Regions from separate parts of the Homo sapiens genome. Here all the other regions are reported to be linked to region 3. Evidence: microRNA targets listed by miRTarBase, many of them from high-throughput screens and not tested one by one. Region 3 holds a microRNA gene; each other region holds the end of a gene's coding sequence. Distances are from middle to middle.
What was found. Region 3 holds the annotated microRNA hsa-miR-29a-3p (UAGCACCAUCUGAAAUCGGUUA, at 2,974-2,995, shown strand). A microRNA usually pairs through its seed, bases 2 to 8, with sites in the 3' UTR of a target mRNA and lowers its output. Matches are read on the target gene's strand: a 7mer-m8 pairs with bases 2 to 8, a 7mer-A1 pairs with bases 2 to 7 and ends in A, and an 8mer does both.

Region 1 (5,351 bases), 18 Mb from region 3:
CAACCTCCGCCTTCCAGGTTCGTGCGATTCTTGTGCCTCAGCTTCCTGAGTAGCTGGGATTACAGTCACATGCTGCCATGCCTGGCTACGTTTTGTATTTTTAGTAGACATGGAGTTTCATCATGTTGGCTAAGCTGATCTCGAACTCTTGACCTCAAGCAATCCACCCACCTCGGCCTCCCAAACTGTTGGGATTACAGGCATGAGCCACCCAGAAAACTACTGAGATTCTGAAACAAATTTAGAAAAAAGCATACAAACCAAAGTTTAAGGTACATTTAAAAGGCTTTCCAATTGTTGAGATTTCCATTTCTCTGCCAAGAGAAAAACAGGGTTTAGAAAAACCAGCGTATCTCCTTTTACGCATTTAGAGATCTTTAAATTGTTAGCTATTGTAGCCTGCTTGTTCACTGGGTTTTGTAGTGTGTATATATATAGGCCACCACTAATATACTTCGGGAGCTTTGCATTCACAGTAGCTCATGGATATGACTTTAACATGAATTATCATACTATCATGGTTATGGCAATTCAGTTTTTTTTAAGAATAAAGTTATTATAATACAAACATTCCTTGTAGTAAATGTTTGTATTATGGGTTTTTTTTTTTTTTTTGTAACAAAGAATTTGTTTTCTACCTTTGTTATCATTTAACAAGCAATTTACAAAACCAAGAAGGAACCAAATCTTTGATTTACATTTCTGCTGACCTAGTGTGTGGACTCTTGCAGAGGAATAGCATTGCTGCATAGTGCTCAGAAAGTGTGGGAAAACGGAACAAAAAGCTTGAATCCATTTTTTTTTCTGCTTTTACATCAGAATTTATATTTAGGTTATACTTTCCTAGAGGAATGAACAATACATCTCTCTTATCCACAATGTGTAATTTGCTAGTTTTGTGTTTAAAGCTTTTCTTATTTCCTGTTCTACTTCTGTGAATTAAGGATTTTAAGCAGGGGCAAAACTGTAGCATCAGCAGGTAATCATTCTTGGATACAGATACTAAGTACATGTAGCATGCTTGTCTTCACTCTTAGGTCATAAGCTCCATGAGAGCAGGGGACAATGATCACTCCAATCCTTGCTGCTTTCCCAGCATATAGCACATGGCAGAATTCAAACATTTGTTTAATAAACAACAACAACAAAAAACCTTTCATATCATGAGGAAGACATCTGCTGTCCTGAAAGAGCTGATAAATTATGTAGCTTACTTAAAAAAAAAAAAAGAATATGATATGGTTGACATACAATAAAGTAGAATTTATGCTGTTGCCCTGCTTCTGCCATAAACATGACAAAACATGACAATGGGAAGTCACCTGAGTTCTCTGGATCTCAGTGAATAAATTTATGACATTAAGGGATTTAACAAAAATGAAACCCAGTGGGAAAATTGTACAAGTCACTCAAGTTCTAAATTGCTTCCCAATGCTGAAATCACTTAGTGAGATACATCAAAGACCACAGAACTTTCGGTTTACAAGTAACAGACAAAGAATACTAGAAAATTTAAAATTTTTAATAAATGTGCTTTGTTCACAAAATGTGAAAAAATACAACAAACACACACGTACATTTTCAGGTATGCTACCTCCCACCACTTGGCAACTATGGTAAAACCACATGATCTAGTCATGATACTGAAGAATCCAACCAAATGATTACCATTTGTTTTTGAAACAACCAAATTATTTTGGAGAACCAGCTGTGAATGTGACAGGAGGCCTCATAACTTCTTTATATCCAAAATGAAATAATTCTTAGGAGTACCCATACAGTATTAGAAGGCCCTATTAACTTCCACTTGTTATTACATACATGATCTGGCATCAAGCTGCAATGACTGCTTATACTTCAATACTTATACACTGAATTGGTTTTTGTGGAATGTGTATCAGTTTAAATCTGTGCCAACCTAATTGGAATAAGCTGAATTTACAGTAACAAATGATATAAATTCAAACAAATTTATACTAAGTGGTAGTAGGTTTTATAAAGAGACTTCCTCAGAGTACTACGTAAAATACATCATGCACACTTTGGAGCATAAGCAGAATCAACATCTGTAAACAATCAGAATTTATAGCACCAACATTTTCGCTGTAACACAAAGGCTGACTCCAGGGTCATACTATACCAGCCTTTCAAAAGCGCTGTTTTCATTTACTTTCAAAGCATTTTCATTTGGTGTATTGTTTTCTTTGCTCTTAAGATATTTACCCAAATCAAAAAGCAAACAGTATGGTAAAAGGTACTACCAAAATAGTTCAAAAGAGTTCTGTATTATCCTTAACATAGTGCTTTTTTTTCCTTCCCCTTCTCTTGGGGAAGCTACAAGACATAATCCTTCAGTGCTTAACTGGAAAGAACAGTCAATCCTAAATATTAAAGAATCTTATGCTGTTGAAAGTAAATGAAAAATTTCGAGTTATTTGTGGCATATTTGAGCAACCAATATTTATTGCATTTAATCAACTGACTTTAAAAAATTACAATCTTGTTACTTTCATTAATTTAGCATGTGAAATTTAATTAGAAATACTGGGTACATACACTCAACCATTTATATCATAAAGGATAAGTTTTATATTTCTAAATAAAGTTTGACATTCAAAGGTACTACGGCAATTCACAATAAGCACAAAAACATCAGCTTTACCAGAGTAAAGAAGTGCAGTTTATGAAATTTAGGATCAACTATTGAAAATGCAAGTTTCCTTTAAAAACATACAAACATACGCACAACATTAACCATGAAATCTGAAACTGTGATATTTCAGTGCAAAAACCTCAGTATGAGGTAATTTTAATGTAATAACCACTTGAAAAAAAAATCCACACAGTGGCACTCTTAAAAATGATAGCTTCCATGACAATTGCTGGCTGACAAGACAATGTGGACTAAATGTTCTTAACTGTTTAAACTAATCTTGTCTTGTTTGGACATATATTTTTCCCTAATCATTTGCTTCTGATTCAGAAACACAGAAAGGCATTTATTAATGTGGAAAGGGAAAATTCCCACAGCCAACTAATTGATATATTCAAAGAAAATTTTCTGATAAAGTTTAGATAGAAATTAAGATACCAAAAGGTCAAAACCATTTTATGAGATCACCAACAGAGGGTTAATTTTAGGTTTTTCCATATAATTTGAAACTTGTAGTGCGGCACCTCCTTAACGGAAAGGTGAGGACCCTATCAAAGTTGGTTTCAACAGAACATAAACTCTCTTCCAAGTGCAAACCCTTTCAAAAAGGTGTTTTAGGTCATTATTGAGTATTACATTGTTCCTTGCTTAAATAAAACATTTTGTAAATGAAGCCTAAGTTTAAGAAAAGTAAAAGTGAACTCTCAGGTAAATATACTTCACACCAAGGCCCAAATCAACAAGAAAGTTATGAAAATACTACTTTGGCAATGGTGTTTATTGGATAGGGCTAATAAAATTAGAATACACACTTTGGGGGACATCTCTCCCCCAATGTCTGATGCTGTCAAATGAGCTTTTAATATAAGGAAGAAATAAAAAGAATTATCACCAATTACAAAAAGTTCAGTAAATATTGGATCATCAGACAAAAAAGGAACATAAAATGACTTTCTGTAACATCACAATTTTAGTTAGAAAAAAGAAAAAGATAAGTGCATCACAAAACAACTAACCGATCTATTTTTCTGTATCACATTTAACTTGTGAGTCATCAAAGTGCAATCTACAGCTTTCTACATCTTAAAGTTTTCCATTCAATGGTTTATAGTCAACACTGAAAAGTTGAAAAGGAAAACATATAGCAAATTATGCTTGTTTTCACAATAGCACTAAAGAGAAAAAGGTACCTTTCTATGATAGTGCTAAATGCTAAAGTAACAGTAGTTTCTGCTATGACATGAGTCACTCTGCATGAAACTTTAAGCTTTCTATATAAGAATAAATTTTAAAATTGAGAAGTAGAAAAAAATAGCAAACTCTGTAAACCTCTGCATTTCTTTTATGCAAACCAGGTTTTCAGTACTGAGTTCATGTTAGTATTTCCAATTGGTGTAAGCAATTAGTTTAGGAGCCTGGACTGAAAGGGGCTTTTTGCTTCTATATTAACTTAAAAGTAATATGGGGTCTTCTAGCTCATAGAAAGGAATAGAGCTGGCTTGACTTTCTCCAGAATCTGAGTCATATGGCGCATCAGGGAGTTCTGTGAAACCATATGCTAGTTGTTCATCTTCTATATCTGATCGAACATAGCAGGAAGGGTTAGAATATTCCTCATCTTCTATACTGTTGAAATCTTGAGGAATATATAACATTCCTGGGTAGTTCCTACTAACCAAGTCACTTGTGGTTTTTAGAGAGATTTTCCTAAATGCCATCAGATGCATATGTGAAAATTTTGAGTACTTGAAGCGTTTAAAGCCCAGGGACTCTATAGCAATCTTCCAGCTTTTCATCATCATAGCATGACGGTTCTGATGGGAGGAATCAGGTGTGATGATTAGTAATAAACCATTTAACACTAACAGTTCATGGGCTTTCTTGCAGCAAATCCATCGCTGGTAAGGAGATGGAAAATAAGAAAGAAGGAGAGAGAAAACAACCACATGGAAAAGCTCTCCAGGAAGAGAATCAATAGGGTTTTTCAGCTGCTTCAAAAAAGCATCTATAGCATCCTGTGCAAGCTGGAGTGGTTGCTGAAGCTGTAAGTTCAGGAAATCACATTTATAGACACTCTGCAGAAACAGAAAACAAGGCATATTAAGAACTTCAAGATTATTTCCACTTTAGTACATAGACTTTTCAGCAAACCATTTCACATATCATAGTAATTCCAGCATTGATTATACATTTTTCCTTTTAAATTATTAAACTTGAACAGATGTATTCAACCACAACTTTTACAAAAATCTCAAAGTAATTAAGTCCAAAGACCTGCTAATCATCATTTAAATATATGTTTTTTGCCTAACAATTTAAAATGGGAAATAATTTGTGTATTTTGGGTTGGGACTTACATGAATTTTAATTTGGGTAGGAGTTTACAGGAATGACATTTCTATTTACATTCACTTTAACATTTACAGTTACCAAAAACAAACTAATATAAAAATGCTAAACAAGAAATACCATGAAATAAAGATGAATCAAATAAAGAGGATAATGAAAGAGGCATTATAAAATTTGTACAAGCAGAATGATTCCAAAACTTTAGTTCTTTGAAACTGTTAACTTTAACCATTTAAAAAGTAACCCTCAACATTACTTTTATTCTATTAAAAAGTTAATCCCTAGTTTGGAACAAACTAGATTTAGTTAGACAAATGACCATGGGAAACAATACAACAGAGGAATGAAT
Region 2 (5,351 bases), not on the chromosome of region 3:
GAGGCCTGCCAAAGGGAACCTCAGTAGCCAACCCCAAGGCCGCCCACCTGGTGGACCCCACACCAGCCAGGAATTTGGGAACCTGGGTCGTGACTGTGGATCCCATGGTTTTGGGGATCAGGGTGAGTGGGAAGCAGCGTCACCTTCTGAGCTGCTCTTGCTCTTCCTCCCTTGACCACAGTGGAAATGCTGGCATGCCAGCCCATCCCCCACCCCTCCCAGGCCCACCAGACTCAGCCAGTGGACAGACACACCTGGCAGCCTGTCTGGGGTGAAGGCCTGTGGGGCATGGCTCCCGCTGGCCTTGAGTAACCCACTTCCCTCTGCTTGTGCCCAGCACAATGGGAGGCCATACTGCCACAAGCCATGCTATGGGGCTCTCTTTGGACCCAGGGGTAAGTACCAGCCTTAAGGGGCCATGGGTCAGCAGAACCCTCCTTGTGGCTGGGAGCTGGGGGCTCAAGCCTGACCTCCCCTATTCTCTCTTCAGGGGTGAACATTGGTGGTGTAGGCTCCTACTTGTACAATCCCCCCACTCCCAGCCCTGGCTGCACCACTCCTCTCAGCCCCAGCAGCTTCAGCCCTCCCAGGCCAAGGACTGGCCTCCCCCAAGGCAAGAAAAGTAAGGCTGGGCTCAGCTCCTCCCAGTCCTCCTCCCGACCCTTCCCCAAGCTGGAGCGGAGGTTGGGCCAGGTGGCAGTCTCCTATCCAGCCCTCTGCTTCACATTCTCACAACTTCATTCTTGGCAAAGTCTTCTCTATCTACTCCCCGCTTTTTTTTTCTTTCTTTCTTTCTATTCCCTCATGTGAGCTGCTGAGTTAAGAGGTAAATTGTTGGGAGGCCGAGGCAGGTGGATCATGAGGTCAGGAGTTCGAGACCAGCCTGGCCAGCATGGTGAAATCCCATCTCTACTAAAAATACAAAAATTAGCCAGGTGTGGTGGCTCATGCCTGTAATCCCAGCTACTTGGGAGGCTGAGGCAGGAGAATCATTTGAACCCAGGAGGCGGAGGTTGCAGTGAGTCAAGGTCATGCCATTGCACTCCAGCCTGGGCAACAGAGCGAGACTCCATCTCAAAAAAAAAAAAAAAAAAAAAAAAAGAGGTTAATTGGGCAGATGGCATTATCCCCTCTCCTCGTGTGTTACAGGTGAGGAAAGTGAGATCCAGACAGGGCAAATGACTGTCCATCCACAAAGCTAGTCAGAGGCAAAGCTGGCCAGGAACTTAGGTCTGTCCCAGGCCAGGGCCATGGAAGGAATGATCTAAAGGAGAGGAGTCATTGGGATAAGGCCAGCCTCTCATATTCTTCAACTTTTCTCCTCTGGTCCCTGTTCTTTCCCTCCATTCCCTGAAGTAGGCAATGACACTGTGCTCCCCAACACCTGACACCCGTGCTGTGGCCAGCTCCTATATCAGCTCAAGTTTCCTGAGGATTGAGTTGCTAACAGGGTTGGGATGGTGGGTACGTGAGCCCCTGGGAGGATGAAAAGGAAGCAGGAGAAGGAAGCAGATAGTCCCTAATACACATAGGGATGGGGCAGGAGGTGGAGTCAGAGGGGGCTCAGCTCTGGGCCTGTAGAAGGCAGACTCTTGGGCGCCTGGGTGGGGCACTCTGGAATGAGCATGGCTTTTGAAAGAGGACAGCACCATATGCAGGCAGGTGCTGGTGGGCATCTCCACCTCAGACATAGCCAGGGCCTCTTCCCCTTTAAAGGCCCTCCCCATATGAAGACATTCACTGGGGAGACCTCGCTGTGCCCTGGCTGTGGGGAGCCCGTCTATTTTGGTAAGTAACAGTGGAAAACTTGGGGAGGGGGATACAGGGTGGGCAGCAAGGGGGAGGGAGGTGATCCAAGGCAGGTAGGTCTCCCTACTCTACCCCTAGAATGGAAGCATTACCACTTCTTTCCACCACCAGCTGAGAAGGTGATGTCATTAGGCAGAAATTGGCACCGACCGTGTCTGAGGTGCCAGCGTTGCCACAAGACCCTGACTGCTGGGAGTCATGCTGAGGTGAGCAGGGCAGGAATGAGTGGTTATGTTGGGAGGAGGCTGGAGATGGGAAGAGAACCAGGCTGAGACAGCTCTCTTTCTCTCTGTGTCTCAGCATGATGGAGTCCCCTACTGCCACGTCCCCTGCTACGGCTACCTGTTTGGCCCCAAAGGTGGGCAGCCCCATCCCAGACACTGGGATGGCATGTACATGCCTGAAGTATGGCATGTACATGGTCTGTGGGTATGTGTGGACAACTTCCCCTGTGGTTAAGCATACCCTGGCCCCCCCACCAAGTTCCCTCTAGGCCTGAACCCTGCACCACAGACCCAGGGCCTTTGGTGATAGGGCTCTCTCTCTCAGGTGTGAACATTGGCGATGTGGGCTGCTACATCTATGACCCAGTGAAGATAAAATTCAAATGAGACGCTCACAAAAAAGGTCACCCTAACTCAGGCCTCCCATCATGCCCCTCATGGTCCAATGGAAGCTACAAAAATCTCCAGTCCCATGGGGGTTGGGGAAGGTGGGATCTTGGGGGCCTGGGCCTAGGCTCCATGGTAGGCCAGAGAGTCTAGACTTTCTCTGCCAATTTTTTCCCTTTCCCATTTCTATCTGGTTAGGGAACAGCCCGTTTTGAAGGGTATCCTCCTCCTGGCCATCACAACCCCTTTCCCCAGCACATTCTGGAGCTTCAAGGTACTCATAAAACTTGTGTTTATTGAATTTCAGCCTCTGTGGCTTCTTCAATAAAATGTTGGCTCCCATGCCTTCAACTCTTCTTTGGGCATGAGACCAGTGGGTTGGAGGATGGGGAGTGTGGGGGTTGGGATGACATGCATTGCCCTGCAGGGTGCCTCGGAGGTAGCAGGGCCAGCCATGAGAACAAAAAGCTCTGTTCTTTTTGTCCCTTGGGCCTGGCATTGGCAGTCCTAGCACCACACAGTGGACAGCATGCCCACCAGCCCCATTGGTACCAGAAGTCTCATATGCTAGTCCTTTCTTTAGCACCATCTCTAGAAGAAGCAGAAGCACCTTATTCAGTAACTCATTTGAGCATGGCAACAGATCCTATGGTAGGGCCTCCCAAGAGGCTTCATTATCCATTTGGGAGATGAACAGACTGAGGCCCAGAGAGGGAAAGCCACATGCCCAAGGTCACACAGCAAGTTAATGGTGAAGGTTTTATCAGAGCCCAGGGCAGACTCAGTGGCTTCCTATCCAGGGCTCTTCCCACAGCTCGTCACCACTGCCCCAACCCAAGGGGCACCTTTATTTACAGAATCCTCCCCAACCGTGAGAGGGGTGCCCAGCAGCCCACTGCATTCTGGGAAGTCAACTGTTCCTAGAAGCCAAATAATCAAGGATGGATGAGCAGAGGGAGCGGGTACTGGCAGCAACTCCGGCCCTAGGCAGAGGGTTCGATACTCCCAGCCTGAGTTGCAGGGCCTGCCCTTCTGCTCTCCCAGCCCCTGCTGCAGAGCTTCTGTGGAGGGCCTGCCTCCACTCCCACTTAGTTCTGGACCTGCTTCATGGGCATCTCTTCCTCCTGAAGACTGGTTGGGGCACTAGGGAGGAAGGAGTTGTGAGCAATGGTGGGGTTTAATCCCCGAGCCTACCACCCCAGCCTGCCCCATCAGGGCTGTCCCAGGGCTCACCCCAGTTCCTGGTATACAAACGCCTGTACAAGTGACTCACACACATGCTTGTACACACCCCTGATGTGTAGGCATACTTGAGTGTGCACACATACACATCTTCCTGAACAACCTTATGTATTTGTGTTCATACACTCATGTACACATTTATGCTTGCAGTTTACATGCCCCCAATCATGCACCCTGAAACACTCACCTGTGCACGCACACATACATGCACCAAGTACACATGTGCAGATATAGTTTCCTGTCTGAATCCTAAGGTGTCAGGTATCTGAGCACCTGCATCCATATGCATGTTATCACACGTACACAGACACAGTCCTGTGCACACACCTCTTTCTCTCCACGTCCTGGATGGTCTCTGGCAGCTGTGCCTGCCTCGTCTCTGGCAGCAGGAGGGCGGTGCCGGCAGCCAGCAGGGCGATCCCCCCATAAGTAAGCTTGGGCAGTGACAGCCACACTCCATCCAGCAAGGCCGCCAGTGGGGCCAAAGAGCCCCCCAGCCGGCCCACCAGTGCAGTCAGCCCCATCCCTGTCTGTCTGTTCAGAGAAAGAGGATGAGGGAGGCAGATGGTGTTCACACCTACCTGGAGTCATGCCCCACAGGGCTTCCCTCCAGGGCTGGCAGGCCCTGATACTCCCTTCTCCCCATATAGCTAAGAAAACTAGGACTTCTTTCAGTTGGTCTTCCCACCCACCTTCAGGCCAGGAGACCTCAAGCCAGCACCCACCAGAGGACAGGGCCCCCATTCTGACAGAGTACCAATTAGGTATCACTAAAGGAGAAGACAAGTCACCAGACTGGGAGATAAGGAAAGGGTGATGTGGAAGGAAGAAGGTCAGTAGTTTGTACAGGCCCTGCCATGTTGTTCGAGGAGGCAAACCTCTTTCTAAACATGACCAGATGCCTAGAATTTTCCTCTTCCCACCTCTCAGTAGCTAGCTGAAAGACCCCCCCAACCCCGGGCCTTTCAAGGGGTTGCTCTTGGGACAGTCCTCAAGGGCATCTCTGCCTTCCAGGGGTGAATGGGATGGGGGTGGGCAGGATGGGGCTTCTTGGGGCTGTTTTCTTCTTCTTATTATTATTATTATTTAATTTTTTTCTTTTATTTATGTATTTATTTGAGACAGAGTTTCTCGCCCAGGCTGGAGTGCAATGGCATGATCTCAGCTCACTGCAACCTCCATCTCCCAGGTTCGAGCGATTCTCCTGCCTCAGCCTCCCAAATAGCTAGGATTACAGGCATTCGCCACCACACCCAGCTAATTTTGTATGTTTAGCAGAGACAGGGTTTCACCATGTTGGTCAGGCTGGTCTCGAATTCCTGACCTTCAGTGATCCGCCCGCCTTGGCCTTCCAAAATGCTGGGATTACAGGCGTGAGCCACAGTGCCCGGCCTTGGGGTTGTTTTCTTAAGGAGGCCCAGAGAGGATGTCTGACGTGGCTCAGGGTCACATAGTACAGAAGATAAGATGCTCTGCCTTCTCCAAGACTAGGGCAAACACAGAGGGCCCTGATTAGCTCTGTATTCTGGGTGTAGTGTGGAGAACGAGTGAGAGGCTGGGTGCGGTGGCTCATGCCTGTAATAGTGCCTGTAATACGAGCACTTTTGGAGGCTGAGGCGGGAGGATCGCTTGAGACCAGGAGTTTGAGACCAGTCTGGGTAATATAGCAAGACCCCGTCTCTACCAAAA
Region 3 (5,351 bases):
TGATGTATTTGGTGTATGAGATATATATGATCTTATCAGACATAAGTAAAAGAAATTCATTCTTCAGGAAAAATTTTCCCCATAACTGAAGTGTCAATCATTTGAAAAAACTTCTAGGCAGTAGGCAAACACTGTGACTAGTTATTTATCAAAAATAAGCAGACTTTAGAGTTTTGTAACTGATGAGAATAATCTGGCTGCTTCTTTTGTACTTCAGTCACTGATACTGCGAATTAGAGTAGCATATACAGAAGGATGCAGGGGGTCCCTAAAGGAATCACAGAATTAGTGAAACCATTATTTGAGAGTTGCAGTGATTCTTCTGTCCTGGCACTTTTCCCAGTTTTGGTGCTTAAATTTACTATCCACTTGAAATGTGTCACTGCCTGTCACTTCACAAAGTATGTGCCTTTCACTGCAGTCAACAAGCTGTTTACATCTTTGATGAAATGATTGCCACGCATCTCCATAGCCCTGGTGTTCTATTCCCTTATTCACAGAGATTTTTTTTAAAAACCAGCCTAGCAGCAATAGGTATGTGCTGTGGATGCTTCTCCATGATGATAAAGGATGAGTTTGTGCTGGGATCTCCTTATGAAAAGATAACTGGCCAAGCCCATGAGGAACAAGAATGTTATGCTAATCAGACCCAAGGTAAACAGCCTGCAGTGCACCTCCTGACTGATTAGCACTGAACCCACTTGGAATCATCAACCACAGGCACGTGGTAATTGGATGTTCTTCTAATACACATAGTGAGATTGTAAAATGAGGATGATATATGAGGAAAGTCAGACGGAGAAACTAAAGTTCAGTTCTTAAATACAAGCCAAGGGAACAGACTAAGTGAATGGTACAGCCAGGATTGGAGCCTGGTTTTCACAAGGTGGTATGTCATGATAAAACAAGCCAAAGAAAAGGTTGGGTAGTGTTTTGAGGCTAAAAGAGACCAAAGAGTCTTAGTGAATCAACCTTGATGCGATCTGGGTTTGAAAAACCTATAAAAAACCTTTTGTTTGGAGAAAGTGGGAGAAGTTGGATGTAGGCTGGATATTTGTGGGTACCAAGGAATTGTTTGTTTTCTTAGGTATGGTAAGATTTTGTGGTTATGTAGAAGAGTGTCTTCATTTTATAGAACGACCTCAAAGTAGTTAGGAGCAGTGTATGTATGGGTGGTTATCAATTTACTTTCAAACAATGCAGCAAAAAATATGTATCTATATTACATATAATTAAAGCAAAACATGATAAAAAGGAATAGTTATTGAATTTAGATAGTATGGATTTAGGAATTCATTGTATTGTCATTCCAATTTAATGTATAAAATTTTTTATAACAGTTTATAAAAACAGTGCACACCCCTTTAATTAGGTGGCCTGGGTACATGAAGTATCTTTTTGGATGCCTAGAACACAAAAAGGGACGACAACAGGCCACCTAATAAGATGATACCAAGAACTATACCATGACGGCGAAAAAGAACTGCTGCAAAAAATAATTTGCCAAGGAGAACTCAGAGTACAAAGCCTTACCTTTGGAGTAGAGGGAAGGAGAGTCTTAAGTAAAGCTCACAAAAACCCCTAACTCATAGATGCAGTCTAAGGAATTCATTCCGGAAGCGACATTAGCATCTCATTAGTGCCATTATGTGACTTACTTGGCCTCTGAGCTAGTCTATTTTCTTCCCTAGACCCCAAAATCTCAGTAATCCTTTGGATCCAAGTTATCTCCAAGTGAAAATAATAGGTTTAGGAAAGCGTTTTTCTTCAACTTCTATGGAGCACTTGCTTGCTTTGTCCTATTTGCATGTCCGACGGACGGTTCTCCAGCACCACTGCTAGTCGTCCTCCGCCTGCCTGGGTACTTGATCACAGGATGCCTCTGACTTCTCCTGCCTTTACCCAAGCAAAGGATTTTCCTTGTCTTCCCACCCAAGAGTGACGGGGCTGACATGTGCCCTTGCCTCTAAATGATGAAGCTGAACCTTTGTCTGGGCAACTTAACTTAAGAATAAGGGAGTCCCAGGCATGCTCTCCCATCAATAACAAATTCAGTGACATCAGTTTATGAATATATGAAATTTGCCAAAGCTCTGTTTAGACCACTGAGTAACTCACAGCTAGGTTTCAACTTTTCCTTTCTAGGTTGTCTTGGGTTTATTGTAAGAGAGCATTATGAAGAAAAAAATAGATCATAAAGCTTCTTCAGGAAGCTGGTTTCATATGGTGGTTTAGATTTAAATAGTGATTGTCTAGCACCATTTGAAATCAGTGTTCTTGGGGGAGACCAGCTGCGCTGCACTACCAACAGCAAAAGAAGTGAATGGGACAGCTCTGAAGTATTTGAAAGCAACAGCAGGATGGCTGTGAGAACCTGCCTCACATGTAGCTGACCCCTTCCTCACCCCTGCCAACAGTGGTGGCATATATCACAAATGGCAGTCAGGTCTCTGCACTGGCGGATCCAACTGTGATCGAAAGTTTTCCAAAAATAAGTTGTGTCTGTATTGAACATGAACAGACTTTCTTCTTGTCATTATTCTCTAACAATACTGCATAACAATTATTTGCATACATTTGCATTGCATTAAGTATTCTAAGTAATCTAGAGACGATTTAAAGTATACGGGAGGATGTGTGTAGGTTGTATGCAAATACTACACCATTTTCTATCAGAGACTTGAGCATCTGTGGATTTTGGTATCCAAGGGGCTTTCTGGAACCAATCCCTCAAGGATACCAAGGGATGAATGTAATTGTACAGGATATCGCATTGTTGGAATTTTATACTTCTTTGTGGAATAAACCTATAGCACTTAATAGATAGTACAGACTCATTCCATTGTGCCTGGGTTAAAGAGCCCAATGTATGCTGGATTTAGTAAGATTTGGGCCCTCCCAACCCTCACGACCTTCTGTGACCCCTTAGAGGATGACTGATTTCTTTTGGTGTTCAGAGTCAATATAATTTTCTAGCACCATCTGAAATCGGTTATAATGATTGGGGAAGAGCACCATGATGCTGACTGCTGAGAGGAAATGTATTGGTGACCGTTGGGGCCATGGACAAGAACTAAGAAAACAAATGCAAAGCAATAATGCAAAGGTGATTTTTCTTCTTCCAGTTTCTAAGTTGAATTTCACTGACCTGAATTGCATGTGGTATAATACTAACAAATGGTTCACTATTAGCATATCATGAATGGTTATACTTTATAGAAATTCCATAGACTTGGTGGGGGTTTTGTTTTGGTGACGGATACCTAGAAACACTCCTGGGGAAAATCGATGACTGGCTTAGATGATGGGAAAGGAGCAGCGAGGGAGTCAATTCTGTTGTTGATGAGAAGCTGCACCAGCTATCTCTGAACTCTCCTCTCTTAGCTGGCTGAGGAGTTCCCTCCATGGTTAAACAGGTCATTTTCTTACATAAGGAAAAATGGTCCAGAGAAACTGGGTTTCTATGGCTGAGACAGAACTGTGCTAATATGTGTCAGTTCAGTTTAGAAGGCAAAGCAACAAAAGCAGGTGCTACTTGAACTAGGATCCTAGAGTATACCTTTGATATGGTTTGGATGTTTGTCCCCTCCAATCTCATGTTGAAGTGTGATCCCCAGTATTGGGGGTGGGGCCTGGTGGGGGTGGTTGAGTGATGGGGCGGATCCCTTGTGAATGGCTTGGTGATGTCCTCACTTAACGAGTTCCTGCTCAGTTAGAGGGAGCCGGTTGTTTAAAAAAGCTGGCACCTCCTTCCTCTCTCTTGCTCTTTCTTTCTTGCTCCCTCTCTCGCCATGTGACATGTCTGCTCCCTCTCCGCCTTCCACCATGTATAAAACATCCTGAGGCCTCATCAGGAGCCGAGCAGGTACCAGTGCCATGCTTGTACGGCTGCAAAACTGTAAGCCAAATAAACCTCTTTACTATATAAATTACCCAGTCTCGGGTATGTCTTTATAGCAGCGCAAAACGGACTAACACAACCTCACTAGAAGTGAAGTCATTAGACCAAAAACAATACTGAGTTTTTAGGTCCACTAAGAGGCAAAAATAAAAGGCTCTTTATAGCAGCATGATTTATAATCCTTTGGGTATAAGCACATGTATGCTAGAACTTAAAGTATAATAATAAAATATAAAAATAATAAAATAAAATAAAAGGCTCAAGAATGAGCCATCTCGGCCGCTCCTCCTCCAGGGGCCCCTGTGTGCAGCTCCCAACACAGGTACTGCACAGACCGGCCACCTGCTGTCCCCATGTGGCGTCCTGGAGAACTGCAGGGGCACCTGGTGGAATTTGGGCCTTGTCCTTCTGTTTTCTTTCTGGCCTGGAAAAGCCACTGGCCTCACAATCAAGAGTTAATATTCTATCTACCCTGCTTAAGCTTTCCCGCCCTCTCACACTGCCTCCCTCCTTTTCCCTCCTGCCTGTCACTTGTCTGGAAAAGGCCTTTTCTCCTCGGGGCTAACACATGCAATTTGTAGCCAAAACATTCTGTCTACCACACAAATCCAACGAGAATCAGGATCATTCCACCACATCTTTTTCTATCCCATGGTTATTATTTTCCCAAAACTCTTGTCTTTTGCTTTCTTACCTATTCGCTGTTTTCCCTAAGTAATCTTATTTACTCCCCTGGTTCCAAATACATCCCTATGTGTTGATTTCCCTCAAACCAGAGGTCTGGCCTGGGATATTTTTTGAGACATCTTGCTTTTTATATTTTTAGTAGCTCCTAAGTATAATAGTTCAGCCTGCTCTTCTAAACTTGTCTCAATTTAATCCATTTATGCTTGAGGTTGCAATTTTTTGAATTTTTGCCATCAGACCTTGGCAATGACCTTGAGCAGTAGGAGACAACTCCCACATGCTTAGCATTCCAATAATGGAACACTAGGCATATACCAAAGCCATCCACATTGCCTTCTCCCCAAAGCCAGCTCTCCCTGCTCTGCCCCATGGTGAAAGCTGCGAACACCAGAGGTCTGTGACCTCTTCCCTCTCCCTTACCCACATCCATACTCAGCACAACTTGTTGCTGTTCTCTCTCAATTCTCTCTTTAGGATCCATCCCTTTCTCTGCTCTTCCTAGACAGCTTTCTGGGCCCACCCCTCGCCATTAGTCTAGCTTTGTTATAGCCACCAGTTAATCTTTGTAAAATACATACGTGAGCTGGGCACGGTGGCTGGTGCCTGTAATCCCAGCTACTCAGGAGGCTGGGGCAGGAGGTTGCTTGAGCCCAAGAGGTTGAGGCTGCAATGAGCCATGATTGCATCACTGCACTCCAGCCTGGACGACAGACCAAGATCCCATCTCTTTAAAAAATAAAAATAAAAATTGTTTAACCACATG
Region 4 (3,000 bases), not on the chromosome of region 3:
GGAGTTCAGCACGAGGTTTCTGCATTTGACTGAGACCCGATGCTTTTCCTTGTCCTCCCAGGTCAGTTCCTGAATCAGGATGCCAGACTCACAGAAGACCCTGCAGGGCCCAGCCAGAACCTCACTCACCCTCTGCTCCTTCAGGTGGGAGAGGGGCCTGAGGCCGTCCTAACAGTGAAAGGCCACCAAGTCCCAGTGGTCTGGAAGCAAAGGAAGATTTACAACGGGGAAGAGCAGATAGACTGCTGGTTTGCCAGGAACAATGCCGCCAAACTGATTGACGGGGAGTACAAGGATTACCTGGCATCCCATCCATTTGACACAGGGATGACACTTGGCCGGGGAATGTCCAGGGAGCTCTGAAGCTGGCAGCCTTAAAGATGCAAGTGCATGAAGGACAGTGATGTGGGGAGGCCGTGGGGCAGCTCTTTTCATGGCTTGTACACGCCTCAGCTCCTGGCAATTAGCTGGACTCCATGACCCACCCCTGGTGCAGCATAGATCCGACGTCTGTCTGGGCGAAGGGTAGGGGTGGGTAGGGGCGGGAAGCCTGAGTGCAAATGTCATTTCCCTCTACTGCCTCTTCCTGCCTCTCCCCACCCTGCCCACATCCACAGAGGGGAGAGAAGGGTCATAGCTAAATGCAACAAAGTCTGTATCTTGTCCCAACCTGCTTTTCTGTTCTGTTAGCATATCATAAAGTAAGCCTTTCTGGTGAAGGAAGGTTGCTATGAAACTTTTTTTCTTGGTGGAAATGGACAAGTTTAGGCACTCTGCTTTTTGCCTTACACTAATGCTTAGAAAGCTGTCTTTTCAGTGGTGTTGCAGCCCCCAGATGTGTGGCCAACCTCTGCTGCAAAGGAATCTCTTGCTGAGTCCAGGCCACCAATCAGGCAAATAGCCCATACATTTGATCGTTGTAAACCATGAAGTCTTTTCTTGCAAGACGTTTTTCTTCTGCTGTGGTATCTTGCCCTTAAAAATTAGTTTTCATTAAAAAGAAATTTGATTGAAAATAGAAACATCTACAGCTCAGATACTGATCTCTTTCTAATGGGCTTTGTAAACCACTTGACTTTGCTAATGGCTATTCTCCAATTTGTTCCAATAAGCTAAGGGCTTTTCATACACAGGACAACTCCATGTGGTTGATTTTACTGGCATGTCTTGGTGACGAAGAGTTGGCCAAGTGAATGATGCATCTTTTACTTGGAGCTCTCCAGCCTTTGTCATAGTTCCCAGACCTTTTTTCCTTGTGGTCATCCAGGAGGTGATCAATTACATGTGCACAGTGCTAGGACGGGAGGCAGAGCCGGCTCAGAGCAGGTCCACCAGCCCACCTATAGCAGGAAGCGTGTCGGTGCTTAGGAAATCTAGGACTTCCAGCTTCCCTCATGTCAGATAGAAAAAAAGTCAGGAAACCAGCTCGTGGACAGGGGCTTTGGTTCCAAAACTTGGACAAACCTGATGCCTTAAGGAAAAGGTTAAGATGAGAGGGGACTTCCAGAGTCAATGAACGTCACCCTTCAGCGGACGGATACCGGGAGCGCTTGGGCGAAACAGCAGAGAAAGAAAGACTGTGGTCGGGGAAGTGGAATGCTTCGATGCAGGCCAGAGTTCAAGGCTCTGGGGCTGGCCTCACAAGAGGCTTCTTCCACGGGGCTTGACACCAGAGCAGCCCCCGCGTGAAATGAGAAGGCATGCTTAGCACTGGGAGGAAAAGCTGAGTTAAGAAAATTCTTTATCATGTTTGCCTTCCCTGGGGAAACATTCAGGCAGTAAAATGACATCCACGTGTTCCTGTCGGACGCAGCGGCTTCGGGAACAAGTTAGCGCTGGGGGACTATCTGGGCTCGTCTCTCTCTGCTTCGTGAACCCACCACACCAGGGCCTGTCTGCTGTGCTATTTATTTGCCTTCCGTCTTCCCAACCTCAGCTGCCTGTATTCATGCCAGAGGTGCAAAGGCTGCCAGCCAGTGCTGCTGACAGATGCTTTCAGACTGTAGAGCTCAGAGAAAGGGAGCGGCAGCTAGAGGTAGCCAGGGAGCTGGCCAGGCTCCCCGGGGCCTTCCTATTATGTAAATCCCAGCTGGACAGACAGCCCTGGAGCCAGGTGGCCCTGTCCCCTGTGGAGCACTTGGAGCAGTGATCTGTTGTTCCAGGTGTAAGTCTCGACACTGCAGAAATGAGGACGTTATTAGGAAAGACCAGTTCCTACTGCCTGTGTTGCTACTTTAAGAGCTGAGAAAAACATTCCAATGAGCTATCCATAGCTAACTTGCTTGCTCAGAAAAACATAAGTAACAAAGTTGAGCTTTCATTTTTAAAAATTATATTTTACTTTAGAAAAATATCACCTTTTTTCTTCCTCTTCTTTACGTGTAGATCTTTTTTTTTTTTTTCAAATGGGGTCAGTACCTGAAAGCCCGAAACCCCATACCAAGCTTATAGTTAGGACCTTTGCATTTGATAAAAAAAAAATATAGTATTTTCTGTTGTCCAGAAAATCTTCCCAGATAGGGAAACTGAGGCAGAGAGTGCCGTGGAGTGGTTTTTGCCAAGTCATACAACATACTTAATGCAGGGCTACACTGAACCTCCAGAATCATTTTGTTTGCTTTGACCCTGTTTCACCATCTGGGCAATCATTTATTTTCCTTGAGCATTTATAAACCAGGGCGAGGGTTGTTCCAAAATGAGTAATTGAATGAGATGAAGAAATATGTCATAATTAGAGGAGATAAATCTCCTTGTTATCACAATAGTTAATGTGTCATGATCACTGACTAACTGGGACCTTGAACAAGTCAGCATCTCTGCCTTTCAAAATGAAGGAACATTGTTCTCTATCCTCCCCTGACCCCCGACGGCCCCATGCTAGGTGCACCATCTTCCTCCATTTGACTTTTTAATGCTTTACAACTTCAGGCTAAAGGGAGGGGATGTTGGGAGGAGAAACCATCACAAGATTCCCTCGGTGCCACAGCTGTGCTGAGGAGG
Region 5 (5,351 bases), not on the chromosome of region 3:
ACCCAGGAGGTGGAGGTTGCAGTGAGCTGAGATCGTTCCACTGTACTCCAGCCTGGGCAACAGAGCGAGTCTCTGTCCCTGCCCCCGCCCCCGCAACCCCCGCAAAAAAAGTATATTTTGAAAGTCTAAACAAGCTCCTGTGATGAGGAAAACATTGTGTCTACTTAATTGACAATGTTTTTTGTCTTTGTAGTTCACAGTTGTGCACCCTACAGTTGATTTCCTCTGTGAAATACAGTATTTGTTTCTTAAAAGGCAAAAATCTTAGTCACTCAGAAACAGAAAGTAAATGAACTCTAAAAGCATTTCTGGGTTGTTTTTTTGGTTTTGGTTTTAGTTGTTTGTTTTTTTGAGGCAGAGTCTCACTCTCTCACCTAGGCTGGAGTGCAGTGGCGTGATCTCGGCTCACTACAACCTCTGCCTCCCGAGTTCAAGCAATTCTCTGCCTCAGCCTCCCGAGTAGCTGGGATTACAGGTGCCCACCACCACACCCGACTAATTTTCTGTATTTTTTTGATAGAGATGGGGTTTCACCATCTTGCCCGTGCTAGTCTTGAACTCCTGACCTAGTGTTCCACCTGCCTTGGCCTCCCAAAGTGCTGGGATTACAGGCGTGAGCCACCATGCTGGCCATCATTTCTGTTTTTAATATCTGCAGTGCCTCAAAGTGTTTACATTTTATCACTCTGTATCCATCATCCTTAATGCTTAAAAGCTTTAGAAGTATGTTATACATACTTCTGCTGTAGCATTTATTTTCATATTTGTAGTCCTAGCTTTGCTGCTAAACCATGAGCTCTTGGAATGCCAGAGGCAAAGTTATCTTGCACGTCATTGTATTCTTAAGCACCTAACAGTATGTCTGGATGCCTTTTTTCTGATTGATATTACTTCTTGGCCAGGATAGAGAAATGGTTAAGTTCTCACATAAAATTGAAGAGTTTTCTCAGTTTTGAAAAGCATATTGGGTAGAAAAGAAGAATTTCTTTGGAAGCATTAAGGACACTTTGTATTGTCATTTTCTTAGACAGACTTATGGTTCAGTCACCATGAGTTATCATTTCTGTATGCCTACTCATCTTAAGATTGTCATACCTTAATCCTAATAAGAGAACAGCTCAACAAGTAGGTAGGTGAGATTGTTACTGGCCAGTATTGGAAAAAACTTTATATATATATATTTTGTGTAGTAGGCAGATCTCAAACTGACAGTATGCTGCATTTTGAATCTGGAGATAAAAGTTGCATTGATGAAAATGGAATTTAATAGTTTTCCTAGAAATAATAACACATAGCAAAATTTTATATATGTGAGGCATCTTATATAAAGGGACTTTACTTGAGTTGGTGCAAGTGAGTCATTCTAGCATTAGGGATGGGGCAGAGGTAGTTATCTTTCCTTTGAGCAGTGGACCCAGGAATATCCAGAAACAGATGGTATGTGCAGAACAGGTTGTACAGGCACTGTTTTAAGCACAGCTAAGTAATACCATGAGTGAAAGTCTACTTTTACCTATAGTAGAATCGTGTTGCTGATTTTTGTGGCTTCTGTTTTCTTTTTTAGGATGTAGAACAAAAGAAGAGTGGAAACTACTTTTTCTTGGATGATTAGACTGACTCTGAGAATATTGATAAGCCATTTATTAAAAGGAGTATTTACTAGAATTTTTTGTCATATAAAACTTGAATCAGGATTTTATGCCCCACATACTCTGGAACTTGAAGTATAATATACTTAATATAACATAAAAAGCCAGTTGGGTTCTAAATTGTAGTTGAAACACAGAAAATGCCACTTTTCTGTTCCTGAAGAGGCTCTTTTGTGCATAATATTCTAAAATGAAGACATTTCAAGCTATACAAATTACTTCCAAGTTTTCATGATGTATGGGAAGATTTTCAGTAGGTGTATTATATTCACGGTACCAAATGCTGACCAGTGTTGCTCCATTTTTTAAATCTTGAAAAGGGTTTCTGTACTTACCTGGTTTGCCAAGTATGCCAGTGTAATGAAACTGCCCTTATTTTAAAAGCCAGTCAAAGATTCCACTGATTGACATTTGATAAATAAACATCAGGATTATGTTTATTGTTTGTTTTCAGTCTTTGCACTATATTACCAGTATATGGTTTCCGAGGAAGATTATCTACTGCAAAACACCACTGTTGGAAAAATAGGTATTTTTAAATTGTTTTTAATCTTTTTTGGTGCTTTTAAACATGTTTAGCAAAAACCAATTCAGTTCCATTCCCCGCAAAAAACCCCTAACTTTACTCTGAACTTTTTTTGTTTTTGCATTCCATGAGGTTCTGTATTCAGTCATTCTCTAGGTAATGTCATTTTTGTACACATATATTTATATAATCACTGATTGAGATTTAGGAAAAAGCATTTCTAAAGAATATTTGCTTCCCTTAGAACTACAGACTCGAAATCTTTAAAGATGGTGCCTAAGCATCTATGTATTTTTTTTAAGTTCCACAGATTTTTCTGTTGGGCAGCCAAGGATTATAAACCACTTCCCTAAAGGCAACATTAATGCAAAAGTCCCCAGATGGCAATACAAAGTATCCCCTGGTACCACATATATTCATTTGTGAGTTTGGATATAGAGCACATTATCTAAACCATTTTGTAGTTCCAAAAACCCATCTAAATTTCTTGAGTTCCTGAATTTTGAACAGGATTACCTGGAGCCTGGAGCCACTTTAAGTTGTACTTCTGACTAAACTGGAATTATGAGTGAGGAAGAGTGTTTACTAAATAAATGACTGGGGCAAGCAAAATTGAGGAGGAAATTAGAAACTGTTTGACAAACTTTAAGAGCTACTTGAAATAACAGAAGTCTTGATTAATATGCAAATAATGGCTAGAAAGTATGGTTTAACTGGACCCTATTATGCCTTTTAAAAATAATTTCAGTAACCCATAAATACATGTTGTAAAAAATTCAAATATACAGAATGGAATAAAAAAATGATCTCCCTTTATTACCCTCCCAAAGGTTACCAGCGTTTGAATTTAATAATGTATATTCTTTCATGCTTTTTTCTGTGCACTTACCTAAGTGTGAATATGTAAAGGGTTTGTTTTGTATACAAATGGGATTATACTAAAATAAGTAATGCCTATTTTTAAGGATAGGTTAAATTTGTGAATGATCATTTCAAATATATTGAATAAAATAAGCAAAAGCTATTGTTATTTACTGATCCTGGATTGTCTTAAAGAAAGTACTTGTGATATAAGAGCACAGTTCTACTTACTGCTAATGACAGAATATGTATTAAACGTATTTTCATGTAAATGAAATCTTTAAAATATGTATCTTAAAATTTTACATAGCAACAGAAAGGCCTACAATTGCTAACACAAGAAAAATACTTATAAAATCAGTATAAAATCAATGCAGATGTTAGCAAAAGAATGAGACTACTTCATATGTCCTAATTGGAAAAAGTCTCAAATACTTAAAAAAACAAAAAACTGGAACAGTTTATTATACTACCATTTTTGTGAAAATATACAAAATATTGAAATAAAGGAATACTCAAGAAACAGATTGCTTTTGACAAGGACAATTTGATCAAAGAATAGACGGGAAAAGGAGACATTTATATATACACATATATAATACCCTTTGAATTTTACACTTTGCATGTGATTATAAATCATTGAAATTTTGGGGGTTTTTTTTTGTTTGTTTGTTTTGAGATGGAGTCTCGCTCTGTCACCCAGGCTGGAGTGCAATGATGTGATATTCACTCACTGCAACCCGCCTCCTGGGTTCAAGCAATTCTGCCTCAGCCTCCTGAGTAGCTGGGATTACAGGCACCCACCACCACACCCAGCTATTTTTGTATTTTTAGTAGAGACGGAGTTTCACCATGTAGGCCAGGCTGGTCTCAACTGGACCTCAGGTAATCCACCCGCCTTGGCCTCCCAAAGTGCTGGGATTACAGGCATGAGCCACCGCGCCCAGCCATTGAAGTTTTTAAATCGTCATTGGATAATAATAGTGGCATCTGTAGCCACTTCTCTCCACATTTGAGATAATACTGGATAATCCATATTTTCTGTGTTCACTTAGTGTAGTCTTAAAGGCAGTGTATTGATGCTACAACTGTTTTTTGCAATTTAGGTTAACCTAATTTTAGACTACAAGCATTCTGAAGTCCAGTCTTGTATCTGTCTTAACACTCAGTATATATAGCATGGTGTCTGGCATGTAGTGGCCTACTGTATTGAAGGAATGAACCTGCATGCCACAGAGAAAGTAGGAAGACTACAAAACTGCTGTGTTGTATAATTTCCTTCATGTTCATCAATATACTTGGATACAGGTATGTCAAGTCCTTAACCCCAGTGCCTAGTCTGCTGTGAGCACTCAGTGAGTGGTTCAGAAGAGAAAGTAATCATTCTGAGTTGGAATGTCAGAAAGGACTACATAAAGGAATTAGGTCCCAGGAAAGAGTAACAGCACCCATCTTACTGAGTTGTTAAAAGGATAAGTGAGATAATCTACCTAAAGCAAAATACATGTCTGGTGAGAGGCAGAAAGGAACATGGGCATTTAAGAGATTAATGGAAGGAAATGATGGATATGGGCAGATTGTGATGAGCTTTCTGTGCCTTCCAGATTGAAGTTAGTTTTTTACATGCTGAAAGTAGTAGGACTTGAAGAGACAAAGCAAGGCCAGTTAGAGAAGCGGAAATATCCAGACAGTAGTTGTTCCGGAGCTTCTACTTTAATTTTTCACCGCTTTGTCTTAATTTTTTTAAGCATTTCTACTCTGTCCACTTAATACATGCAGGTCTAAACTTGGCTGTATACTGTGCTGACTGTTGCTCTTGGAAGATTGTTTCCTTTGTAGTGTTTCAGTTTGTGAGCAGATGTTCAGTGAGGCTGTATCTGAAAATTCTGAGATTTTGTGTGGCAAATATCATTTATCCTCAGCCCTGTACTCACCACCACTACCACCTCCTCTGCCAATGCCCAGTCCCACGTGGTTGGTCATAATTGGTCTAAGACATAGAAAATCCTCTTCCATACTTTCCTAGTCTCTTGCAGTTAAGCCATATGACCTAACTGCAAGAGAGTTCTAGCCAGTAAATTGAAACCTCTTGAGGTTTTTCTAGAAAATACCTCAAGAAAACCTCGTTTTCCTAATAAAGGGAGATTATCATCTGGTACTGCTTCTTGAGGGTGTAATATATGGAGCAAGCATTTCATGCCCAGAAGGTGACACATATAAGGGAAATGCAAAACAAGCTACAAGAATGTTACTCCTGACATTAAAATGCTGCACAACTGCCAGCAGCCACTTCTCTCCACATTTCTTGAGAAATA
Region 6 (5,351 bases), not on the chromosome of region 3:
TGTCCTTTGTAGGGACATGGATGAAGCTGGAAACCATCATTCTCAGCAAACTATCACGAGGACAGAAAACCAAACACCGCATGTTCTTACTCATAGGTGGGAACTGAACAATGAGAACACATGGACACAGGAAGGGGAACATCACACACCAGGGCCTGTTGTGGGGTGGGGGGAAGGGGGAGGGATGGCATTAGGAGATATACCTAATGTTAAATGACGAGTTGATGGGTGCAGCACACCAACATGGCACATGTATACATATGTAACAAACCTGCACATTGTGCACATGTACCCTAAAACTTAAAGTATAATAAAAAAAAAAAAAAAAAAAGGAAGTTGAAATGTAATCACTCTTCTCCAGGTCACTGGATGCTTCCATGATTTTTGGTTTTGTTTTTCCCCTTCAGAAAATCTTGAACTGAGTAATCAGTATACGTTAAAAGAAAAAGATCTTATATATAAGAGATATGTACATTTGAAAATCTTAATAAAAAGATAATTTCCTACTAGTGTTAAAATTAAAGTGCGAGAGGAAACTGTTAACAGCAAGCTACTATATCTGAGTCTTAACACTTCCTGTCTACTGAAAAACAACATTAATTCAGAGTATTAAAAATTAAATAAAACATGGAAAGCAGATAACACAAACTCTGACATATTGTATGAACTTAAAAATATACCCAATACATTTTTAATTCCATAATTTTAAGGGAGTAGTCCTATACTGCCCAGTACTCATATGACAACTCTTTCAAATGGACAAGCTCCTTAGTAACTTAACATCTATACTTTCTACTAATATTAGACTTGTTTACCTGCCAAGAATGTATTCAATTTTTGAATACCAGCAGAGTAGAAATCAGCCTCTTAAAAATCTGATAATGATGCACAGAGGTCCCAAAGGGCAGGAAAGTGAAACTTTTTTCCCTCACAACCCCCTAACGTAAAAACAAAACAAGATTATGAGGTTATAACATAAAAAAACAAGATTATAAGATTATAAGATTGTTAAACACATTTGATAAGATTTTCATTTTGAAATGTCACATTATTCTTTCTCCATAAGTAACATGAAAAATTGGCTAGGTCCATTAAATGAAAGCATATTAGATGCATTAAAGAATCTGATGTAAAGCAACAAAGTTATAGTCCAGCCTGCACCCCAAACACTAATTTCTTCCCAGCATTTCCATCAGGAAGCTTGCCTTACCAGGTTTGCGTTTCATTCTCATTGGATTATTCTAAAAGTAGATGGAACCTACTGCTAGTACTCAAGTATTTACTGAACCACATACTTCCCAAAGTGTGCTGATTCCTTTCCATGGCTACCCCGAATGGAAAAACCTGTGCTTCTCACCATACATTCAGATATGGCCCCTGGTCCATCACATGAAGCCACGTGTGCTCTCTTAACTAGTGCCTGGGATGCACAGTAGATCCTTAATGTTTGGATTTTAAGAGATTACAACCAATCCTGATTGAAAAAAATGAAGACTGCCTATCTGTAGGTAGTTTTGAACCCAAGGCTTTGCCCCTATGTCTACCTTTTTTCTTTCTTTGCAGTACCCAGGCATTTTACCCTCTTTGCAGCCTTCTCCCTTAACATTCAGGTATTGCATCCGTCAGTTTCTCTGCAAAACAAGAGTAGGCAAAGCTTGTCCCTGCCTTGCAGTGAAGGCTTGCACCAAACTGGGGATGCCACCCTAGGCATTGCAGGGAGCAGTGCAGGCACTCCACCTCCACATGGCCACCTACCTTCTGCCCTACTAGACCACATATGAAAGGTACAGTAAAAGAAATTATCCATTAAATTCATATTTGAACAGAAGTATAATTAGGTATCCTCTAGTTTTTACTGCCCCTTTTAGATAAAAGCAGGTTATTTTTGTTTTGATTCTAGTCATGTGAATGAAAGTTCCCTCACTTAAATATTTAATACACACACACACACACAGAGTACTAGACTAGGGGTACAGTGGTGAACAGACAAATAAGGTCCTTGTTTTCATATGGTTCTCAGAAGGGAAGTGTAAACAACTACTCTGTAGAAAAGGGTTTTCAGGCACTTAGAGCTTCAATCTTCTTGTCTGGTCGTAAAAATCAGACAATCTGTAATAATGTGGATTGTTTAACCTTACGAGTCTTCTAACAAGTAATCAGAGTACCCAAACAGGCTTATAAATGTAAAAAACAATCAAACCAACCAAAAAGAGTACATTACAAATGAGGCCATTTCATTCCTTCCTTCATTCTAAGTTCGAATGAATTTATCAGCTAACAATCCTCCGTTTCTAGGAACCTTCCAAGATTTGTCTTAATAGCCAAAGAACAACATTGATTTTCCCTTAACCCTTTTGTCCCAATTGTCCACAGACAGAACTGAAGTCCTTCCTAGGGACCTACTTCTCAGTTACCCCCAGGGAATCCCCTGACAAAGATGCTCCTCTAATTGAGGCAGGCTCAACCCTTGGCCAGCACCAGGGTCTGTGCCTCACTAGCTCATTCCCCTCCAGGCAGCTGATGGAAACTTCTCCCCTTCTACTACTGATTCTCAAGAAGCAGTCTGGAAGCATGGTGGACAGAATGCGTTTATTTCTCCAGTTTGGCCTATTTTAACTCCTACATACATGAACAGCCAATACAATTAAAGTAGAAACACAATTTTTAATATTCCTTATCACAGCCATTTGAAGCTCCTTTCTGCCCAAAAGGTCTAGACTGCCAGCAGAGGCCCTGAGACAAAGGCACTGCTATAAGATGCAGACTGTATCATGGCACAGTGGGAAAGTCACCATGTGCAAAATCCACGGCTTGCCTGCCTCTATGCCTCAGACAGGAACAAATCATGGGATGGATCTGGGATCTATACAACAGCTCCATGAGGCAGGACAATCATATGAGGTTTTATGCTGAATTACACCCATTTTCCCAATGAGGACACATAAAACCTCCCAAACATGTGAGAAGTTTCAGACCCAAATATAATAAGTGATGTATAGGCATGTGACCTGCGAAGTGAGTTTGTCAACCTTGTTTCACTTGAGTGTGAAAAATGCTTTATAATTTTGATAATCTTACCTTCAGCAGCTTTGTAAGAAATAACTTGCTCCAGGGGCCGGGCGCAGTGGCTCATGCCTCTAATCCCAGCACTGTGGGAGGCTGAGGAGGGCGGATCATGAGGTCAGGAGATCGAGACCATCCTAGCTAACATGGTGAAACTCCGTCTCTACTAAAAATACAAAAAAATGAGCCAGGCGTCGTGGTGGGCGCCTGTAGTCCCAGCTACTCGGGAAGCTGAGGCAGGAGAATGGCGTGAACCCAGGAGGCAGAGCCTGCAGTGAGCCGAGATCGTGCCACTGCACTCCAGCCTGGGCAACAGAGTGAGACTCCGTGTCAAAAAAAAAGAAATAACTTGCTCCCTTAAGGCCATTTCAGTTTCCTCATTCATAAAGTGAAAATACAAACTAAAGCTCGCAGGTTTTCTGATCCTGCCACTTAGAGAAAAAAGGCAAGACTAGGACACTGGTCTCCTGGAGTCCAAGGGACAGTGATTTGCCCAGCTTGTGCTCAGAGAGGGAACGGCAGTGGGGTGGCTTGGGCAGGTCTGTGTCCCCCTGCTGCACTGAATTTCTCTTGCCAGGAGGTCAGAAGGTGAGAGTCACATAAAGGTTGCTTAGTTATAGCAAACCTCAGGGGAAGCATCCTCTGACTGGCCTCAGCACAACAACCAGCTCTGGGTATGCGCAGCATTTTTTTGGCCTATTGGGAAAGCCCATCTAATGGTGTCCTGAAGACTGTATCTACTTCATCATCCTCACTGACTGAACTGTGACACCGGACGGGAATCAGGGAAGAGGGTGGTTGGCTACTACATGGACAAAGTCCTGATCCTTACCCCAACGAGTCACCTTAGAACTGCTCTGATCCTCACCATCAGCCCTGTCGTGCTTCCCTCATGGGATGCAATGCTCATTTGACTGGGCCTCTGCTTTTTAAAATAAGTGGTTTCATGACAGACTTCAGCCTGGTAGCAAAGACCAAAGGATCAGACAGAGGAATCCTTGGATACTGGGCTCAGCTCAGTTTCAGGGGATACCTGTCAGTGGCTCGGTCCTCCAAGCCCCATGGGGGCCAGGCCCAATTCCAAGCCTCTCTGGTTAGGGTGGTAGCTTTCTTAGTCCTCCCCATCCAGGGAGCAGATGGCCAGAGGAGCAGTGTTGTTGGTTCCAATGCTGTAGCAAGGACTAAAATAGGGCAGGAGGCGCCCAGGGAAGGGATAGCGGGGGAAAGTGAAGATGTGGGAGCCACAGTCAGTCACATTGTAGAAAGAAATGTCATGGGCCTCATAATCCACGAAGATTCCCACCCGGCGAGGAGGGACCGGCAAGGACAGGATTGGGTACTCATCGGTGCCTGCTCGGTACTCATTTCCCTTCCTCAGCCTTATCACCCAGAATCCATAGTGGGGGGATAAGTAGACCACCTCCTTCCGGTCTACATTTTGCTTACATACTCCCAGGCCCCACTCAGACCTGTCTCCCACCTCCACCTCCCAGTAGTGCCGGCCTGAGGAGATGCACTGGCTTCCCAGGACGATATTATAGCGGTAAAATCTCTCAGGATTGTCTGGCAGTTTCTGGTTGGTGTCTCCATAGTGCACACGTTTTCTGTCCTCAGACACGATGAGACGGGAGTAAGCAGTATCTGGATCCAAGCGCACATCAGCTAGAAGAAAAGGTCCTGGTTGGTAACAGTGATATAGGGCCAGGGGACATGGGTGAGAGCCCTCTGATAAATTCAGCCACAGATTTCTCAATGATGAAGGGGTGAGGCTGGATGGAGCACCCAGAGGGCACTGAACCATTTTCTATCTCTGGGAGGGGTCCCTCCCACTGTCCACTACAGTCTCCCCCAGGATCCATTACCTGCATAAGTCTTCAGGATCTCTCTTAGCCCCAGCACACGGCAATCTGTCTTCAACTCCAGGGAGATTGGTTCTGGCTGCTGCAAGCTCCAAGATTTGCTCCTGGTAGAGGAGGGTGAACCTCAGGGCCAGGAGTCCCGGCTTTGTCACATGGGCCTTATCTTAGTACAGGGAAGAGGGGCTTGGCCAGGGACATAGTGAACCCCAGCAAAGCAGAGACATGATGGTTACGGTTATTTGGCTGAGCCTCAAGCTGTTTGTGTGCAGAGGTGAGAACACCTGCATGCCCATGCTATGGGAAGGGTTGGATGTATATTTGATTCTGGGAGAGGAAGAAGTGCACACATTTTCTGTCGGACATGAAGGAGTCATGGGCAGTCTTTTATCCTCTTTGAGCAATCTACTTGAAACCACATATTTTACAGCT

Region 1: miRTarBase lists SAMTOR as a target of hsa-miR-29a-3p. Seed matches in the 3' UTR shown: 8mer at 2,087-2,094.
Region 2: miRTarBase lists SLC22A7 as a target of hsa-miR-29a-3p. Seed matches in the 3' UTR shown: 8mer at 3,001-3,008 and 8mer at 2,929-2,936.
Region 4: miRTarBase lists ITIH5 as a target of hsa-miR-29a-3p. The part of its 3' UTR that is shown has no 7-base or 8-base seed match.
Region 5: the mRNA of ABCE1 is a reported target of hsa-miR-29a-3p. Seed matches in the 3' UTR shown: 7mer-m8 at 2,207-2,213.
Region 6: miRTarBase lists TRIM68 as a target of hsa-miR-29a-3p. The part of its 3' UTR that is shown has no 7-base or 8-base seed match.

What each region holds. Positions count from the first base shown.
Region 1 is chr7:112,817,646-112,822,996 of GRCh38, forward strand. SAMTOR (S-adenosylmethionine sensor upstream of mTORC1) reads right to left here. Exons shown (of 5, transcript NM_152556.3): 5 at 1,502-4,728. The coding sequence ends at 4,099. Among named protein-coding and RNA genes, the nearest start is that of TMEM168, 30 kb to the left of the region's middle.
Region 2 is chr6:43,302,883-43,308,233 of GRCh38, reverse strand. It overlaps SLC22A7 (solute carrier family 22 member 7), which reads right to left. Exons shown (of 11, transcript NM_153320.2): 10 at 3,990-4,196; 11 at 2,696-3,563. The coding sequence ends at 3,509. CRIP3 (cysteine rich protein 3) reads left to right here. Exons shown (of 8, transcript NM_206922.3): 3 at 338-395; 4 at 491-622; 5 at 1,717-1,788; 6 at 1,921-2,015; 7 at 2,110-2,167; 8 at 2,359-2,762. The coding sequence ends at 2,420. Among named protein-coding and RNA genes, the nearest start is that of CRIP3, 3.3 kb to the left of the region's middle. RefSeq lists an enhancer at 1-748.
Region 3 is chr7:130,874,392-130,879,742 of GRCh38, reverse strand. It overlaps MIR29A (microRNA 29a), which reads left to right and starts at 2,933; the gene lies at 2,933-2,996. MIR29B1 (microRNA 29b-1) reads left to right here and starts at 2,204; the gene lies at 2,204-2,284. It also overlaps a transcript of LINC-PINT not described here. RefSeq lists a silencer at 4,184-4,383 and an enhancer at 4,179-4,473.
Region 4 is chr10:7,560,446-7,563,445 of GRCh38, reverse strand. It overlaps ITIH5 (inter-alpha-trypsin inhibitor heavy chain 5), which reads left to right. Exons shown (of 14, transcript NM_030569.7): 14 at 62-3,000. The coding sequence ends at 363. Among named protein-coding and RNA genes, the nearest start is that of LINC02642, 89 kb to the right of the region's middle.
Region 5 is chr4:145,125,962-145,131,312 of GRCh38, forward strand. ABCE1 (ATP binding cassette subfamily E member 1) reads left to right here. Exons shown (of 18, transcript NM_002940.3): 18 at 1,565-3,563. The coding sequence ends at 1,612. Among named protein-coding and RNA genes, the nearest start is that of ABCE1, 30 kb to the left of the region's middle. RefSeq lists an enhancer at 171-410.
Region 6 is chr11:4,596,102-4,601,452 of GRCh38, forward strand. It overlaps TRIM68 (tripartite motif containing 68), which reads right to left. Exons shown (of 7, transcript NM_018073.8): 6 at 4,926-5,026; 7 at 2,571-4,725. The coding sequence ends at 4,175. Among named protein-coding and RNA genes, the nearest start is that of OR52I1, 4.7 kb to the left of the region's middle.